Linked DNA regions of Homo sapiens: region 1 is linked to region 2. The links come from fine-mapping of genetic effects on gene expression. Tissue or cell type: whole blood. Region 2 holds a variant in brackets; the other region holds the start of a gene. All regions are shown on one strand. Distances are between the middles of the regions.

The links. PIP is the estimated chance that this variant, and not a neighbour inherited with it, causes the effect. A credible set is the group of variants that fine-mapping cannot tell apart.
Region 1: it holds the start of UBR3, and the variant in region 2 is the best candidate, but not a certain one, in a credible set for the expression of UBR3 in whole blood (INTERVAL, PIP 0.65).

What each region holds. Positions count from the first base shown.
Region 1 is chr2:169,826,025-169,828,943 of GRCh38, reverse strand. UBR3 (ubiquitin protein ligase E3 component n-recognin 3) reads right to left here and starts at 1,490. Exons shown (of 39, transcript NM_172070.4): 1 at 892-1,490. The coding sequence starts at 1,436. RefSeq lists silencers at 747-876, 1,137-1,696.
Region 2 is chr2:170,090,964-170,093,882 of GRCh38, reverse strand. No RefSeq gene overlaps it. Among named protein-coding and RNA genes, the nearest start is that of MYO3B, 86 kb to the left of the region's middle. RefSeq lists an enhancer at 1,921-2,488. The variant A/C (reference allele first, on the strand shown) is at 1,249.

The sequences.
Region 1 (2,919 bases), 260 kb after region 2:
TACCAACTCTCTGTAACTCACTGCAAACTCTGAAATGTCTTTTCTCATAAGTCCCAACATCTGATGCATCGCTTCTGTCAAAAGGGCATTTGTTGTCTCCTTTTAGACAGAGGTTCACGTATCAGTGAGTGAACAAAGTGCCCTTAACTGGAGAAGACCTAACACTTGATTCCTGGTTCGCTCAGTATTTTGTTTGTTCTCCTGGTATGGAGGGTATTCTGTAACTGACTGCTCAGTAGCCCAATTCTAAATGTCATTCCAGCATACCAAATAATCCACTGACAGCTCAACAGTCACTTTTCATGCAGGCCCCTCCCCTTCCCTCCTCCCTCAACCCTCAAGAGCTCCTTCTCTCACAGTGACAGACACACTGGCAGTTCAGAAGACCTTTTCCTCAAGCGTCCTTCCCTGCACGTACAAGACCACCTCCCCAGCTCTCATCATCCCGCGAGCCAATACGGTCCCCAATAACATCCCCTCCCAGCCAATCCAAATCACAACCTAAGTCTCTTCCCAAGAACCAGGCTTTACAGCCTTTCCCAACAAGTACACACTTGACAGCTCGACACGAGCTTCCCCAAAAATCATTTCCCCTCACTCCCCTCCTACCCCATACACTGGCTCTTTTCTCGCTATCATTTACCCACCCTGGCTTCCCCAAAATTCACAGCCCGGTTTCCTAAACATGCTCTCCGCTCTCCTCTCCCCTCCTTCTCCTCCCCACCCCCTTTCCACCGCTGACAGCTCAGTCACCTCCATCCCCCTGTGGCTGCACCCTCCCCCGCACCCTCCCCTTGACAGCTCAGAGTGGGCTCCCAGTGCTCCGCTCCAGGCCCTCCCGCGACGTCCCCGGCCCAGGGTCGCCTCGCCCGCGGGGAGGGCTCCACTCACCCGCTCTCCCGCATCACGTTGCTGTCCCCGCAGTCGCAGGCGCCCCCGGCCTGGCTGCGGAACATGTTGAAGTCGTGTCCGGTGTGGTCGCCCTGGTGGAAGCACTCGGCGCACAGCGACATGCAGGGCGAGATGCCGCACGTCCGGCAGCGGTAGGCCACGAAGTTGGCTGTCCAGACCAGGCCGCAGAGCGCCGCGGGATCGTAGGCCCGCACCGCCGCGCAGAACTCGTCGTAGCCGCCGCCGCCCGCCAGAAGGCACTTACACCACTCCAGGGCCTCCTCCTCGGCCGCCCCCGGACCGCCCCCGCCTCCGGCCGCCGCCGCGTCCTCGCCGCCGGCAGCCGCGGCCAGCGGCCGCTCGGCGCTCAGCACCCGCTCCAGCAGCGCCTGCAGCTCCTCAGCACCTGCGCGGTTGTCCGGCCGGCTGAGGGCCGCCTTGAGGTGCGCGGCGGTGGCCGCCTTGTCTAGGGCCAGCCCCGGCGCGGGCAGCTCGGGCTGTGACGGCTGCTGGCCCCCGACGGCCGCCGCGGCCGCCGCCGCCATGATGAGAGCTCAGAATTTGGAGAGTCCAGGGCCAGCGGCTCCTCCAGGGAGAGTGAGGGAATAGACTGCTGCGATTGCTCGGCCCGCCCAACTCTCGCGATACCCGGAGCGTCCGCGCTCCTCCGCCCGCAGCCCCGCCCCTACACACGCCCCCTCGGGCTGCAGAGCCTTCCTCCCGCCCCTCTCTCCTGGGCGCCTGTGGACCAAGCTAGGCTCCCAACTTTCTAAGTTAAGAGCTACTGAAATAAAGTACTCACCTTATAGGAAATCTTTAATAAGGGCAATTATTTCTTTATTTGCATAGACTACAGGAATTATTCACATCATCTTTCAGATGTACTTTAGGCATCTGCATTTTGTCTGAGATGTACATTCCTACTGTTATCAAAGTCCAGCGGGCGACAGAATGAAACCCCAACTTAAGGAAAACAAAAACTGTAGGAAAAGCAATCCAAAGAAGAACAGAAGGCCAGGCGCGGTGGCTCACGCCTGTAATCCCAGCACTTTGGGAGGCCGAGGCAGGCGGATTACTTGAGGTGAGGAGTTTGAGATCAGCCTGGCTGACATGGTGAAACCCTGTCTCTACTAAAAATACAAAAATTAGCCGGGCATGGTGGCGCACGCCTGTAATCCCAGCTACTCCGGAGGCTGAGGCAGGAGAATCACTTGAACCCAGGAGGCGGGGGTTGTAGTGAGCCGAGATCGCGCCACTGCACTCCAGCCTGGGTGACAAAGCGAGACTCCGTCTCTAAAAACAACAACAACAACAACAACAACAAAGAAGAACAGGAGTGTTTCCAATCCATAACCTTGTGTTTGAAATGAATGAAACATAATTAAAACAGGTTATTCCTGGTCTTCTACATGAGTTAAGTATGTCACGATCATCATATAACAGTGATAAGTTAAATTTGCTCAATAATTTTACGAATCACTAAATTATAAACTAAATAAAACTTTATGTATTAACTTTACATGCTAAAACTTTGTATGTTTTAACTCATTTGATTCTCATAACAGATAACTTTGAATTCTGCTATTCCTAGAAGTAGCAGCCTCAGACACTTCTCTACTTCGTCATCGTCCATTCACTCTTTTTCTTCTTCCTATAATAATGCAAAGAGGTGTCCATCCACAGGCTTAAACGCAATCCTGCAATCCTTTTACTTAACCACTGGATCCTGCCTTCTCAGGATCCCAACTCCATCCAATATCCTCTTGCATTTTTAACCCCTCTCTTTCTATTAGCTCAATTCTTGTCAGAATTTGTCTCCTCCTGTCTTAAAAATAATTGAAAAAATAATAAAGCTTCCCCCATTACTAAGCATCCAACCATTCTTTTCGTAGGCCACCTTTCTCTTTCTCTTTCTTTTCTTCTTTCTTTTTTTTTTTTTTTTTTTTGAGACAGGGTCTCACTGTCGACCAGACTGGAGTGCAGTGGCGCAATTTCAGATCACTGGAAGCTTTGCCTCCCGGGCTCAAG
Region 2 (2,919 bases):
ATGCAATTTAATGTAATTACTGTATGAACTTAAATACCACCCTCTTATTGTACTTTTATTTCTCTTCACTGGCTACATTTCTTTTTCACTTATTATTTTAGATTGCTTTTTATTATTGCATTATCCACTCCCACATTAGTTTGGAAGTTTTACCCTCTTTATACTCTATCTGAAAAATTTTCAAAAAACCTACCCTAGAAATCAACTTTCCAAGGTATAATATTACTCTTCTTCTTTCATTAACATGTATGAAACATGTCCATATATCAGGTGAAGTAAAATGCAATGGGGCTAAGAAGGTGAGTAGCGCAGTCTCTCTTCCTGAAGAACTTAAGTCTAAGTCAGCCTCTTCAGTTTTCTTTTGAAGGATCTCCAGATCTCCCATGTTCAGACCACTACTTCTTTTCTTTCTGCAAATACCATATATTTACAAATAAATTCAATATTTTATGAGCTTATTGTAGAGATTGTCAGCTATTATATCAGTCTTTTTGAAATATTTTTTGGTTTGGGTTTGTCATTTCAAAGGATCCAGCTGTTCTGGATCTTTACAAGTATCTTTTTACACATTACAGCTATCCTCACCACAAACTTCAAGTGAACTATTATCTCCATTATGCAGAGGAGAAAACTGATTTCAGTGAGATTTTCCCAGGAACACACAGCCATTAAGGGGTGGACTGGATTTGAACCCAGACCTATACCCATCTCTAATGACTATATATTTTTCCCACCTTGTCACAGAATTTGTCAAAATGTAGGCTAAATAACTGTAATATGCATTGCTACTTTGAGTGTATATGATTGTCACTTTATTTTTTGAGGTACAATTACATACTACAAAATGTATTCTTTAAAGTGCATAACTGACTGGTGTTTATCACATTCACAACGTTGTGCAACCATGATCACTTTTTAATTCCAGAATGTTTTCAACTCACCACAAAGAAACTCCATCCCTATTAGCAGTTATTCTGTATTTCCCTTCCCCCAGCCCCCGGCAACCACGAATCTACTTTCTGTCTGTATAAAGATGCCTATCCTGGATATGTCATATAAATGGCCTTTTTTGTAGCCTTTGTGTCTGGCTTCTTTCACTCAGCATGTTTTTAAGGTCCGTCCATGTTGTAACATGTATCAGTACTTCATTCCTTTTATGGTTGAATAATATTCCACCATGCAGATATACCACCCTTTGCTTATTCATTGGTTGGCAGACATTTTTCACTATTATGAATAATGCTGTGT[A/C]ATCATTTGTGTGCAAGTTTTGTGTGAACATATTTTTTCATTCTCTTGGGTAAAGAGCCAAGAGTGGAATTGCTGGGTCATGTGGCAATTTTGTTTAACTTTTTGAGGGAACACAGCATCCTTTCACATACCTACCAGCAATGTAGGAGAGTCTAATTTCTCTACATCCTCCTCAACACTTACTGTTCATGTTTTTCATTAAAGCCATCCTAGTGGGTGTGAAGTGGTATTCCATGATGGTTTTGATTTCCATTTCCGTCATGATGAATGATGTTGAAATCTTTTCATGTGCTTATTTGCCTTCTGTATATCTTCCTTAGATCAAAGCATTCAAGTCCTTGGCCTATTGTTTAAGTGGGTTGTCCTTTTATTGTTGATAGGAGTTCTTTATTTTGGACATTAAGGCTTAGCAAATATATGATTTGAAAATATTTTCTCCCATTCTGTGGGTTGTTTTTTCATTTTCTTGATAGTGTCCTTTGAAGCACAAAAGTTTCAAATTTTGGTGAAGTCAAATTTTTCCTTTTGAAGGGTGGGGAATTGCTTGTGTTTTGTAGATTAGTGGTTCCCAAACTTTTTGGTGCCAGAGCCTGGTTTTGTGGTAAACAGTTTTTTCAGACTGGGGGGTTGGAGCGAGGGCATGGTTTCTGGATAATGCAAGCAATTACATTTATTGTGTACTTTATTTCTATTATTACATTCTAATATATCATGAAATAATTATTCAACTCACCATAATGTGGAATCAGTGGAAGCCCTGAGCTTGTTTTCCTGCAACTAGATAGCCCCATCTGGGGGTGATGGGAAACAGTGACAGATCATCAGGCATTAGATTCTCATAAGCAGCAAGCAACCTAAATCCCTCACATGCTAGTTCACAATAGGGTTCACACTCCTATGAGAATCTGCTGCCACCACTGATCTGACAGGAAGCGGCGATCAGGCAGTAATGGGTGCCATGGGGAGTGGCTGTAAATACAGATGAAGTTTTGTTCACAGCCACTCACCTCCTGCTGTGCAGCCTGGTTCCTAACAGGCCTTGGACTGGTATGGGTCCGTGGCCCAGAGGTTAGGGACTCCCTGCTTTAGATGTTATATCTAAGAAATGATTGCCTAATCTAAGGCAACAAGGACTTAAAACTATGTCCTAAGTATAATATTAACCTTCACCATTTTCTGAGATAATGCAAGGACTTTGGAACATCTATCCCCGTCTTATTACATTTCTGTTAAACACCAACATACATACATACTGAAATCCCATATAATGCAGTATCATAATCATTTTATGCAGAAAGTGTTCATTTAGTTATACTATACATATATTCACAATTTTTATTTTCTTGCCAAAATTTAATCTTCCAGCAGGGCTTATTTTCCTTCTGCCCAAAAACTCTTTTTGTGTTTTCCTTCCTTAGTGTGGTTATGCTGCTGTTACATTCTCTCCATCTTTATTTTAATGTCTTTATTTTGCTATCATTTTTGAAGAGTATTTGTTGTGTAGAGGATCTTCAGTTAAGAGTTATTTTCTTTCCACATTTTGAGGATATTTTTCTATTGCTCTGTTTCCAATGTTACTGTTAAGAAGACAGAGGCCTTTTGAGGTAATCCATCCTTTTTCCACTGAGCAGTTTTTAAGATACTTTTTATTCATTGCAGTTTCACTATTAT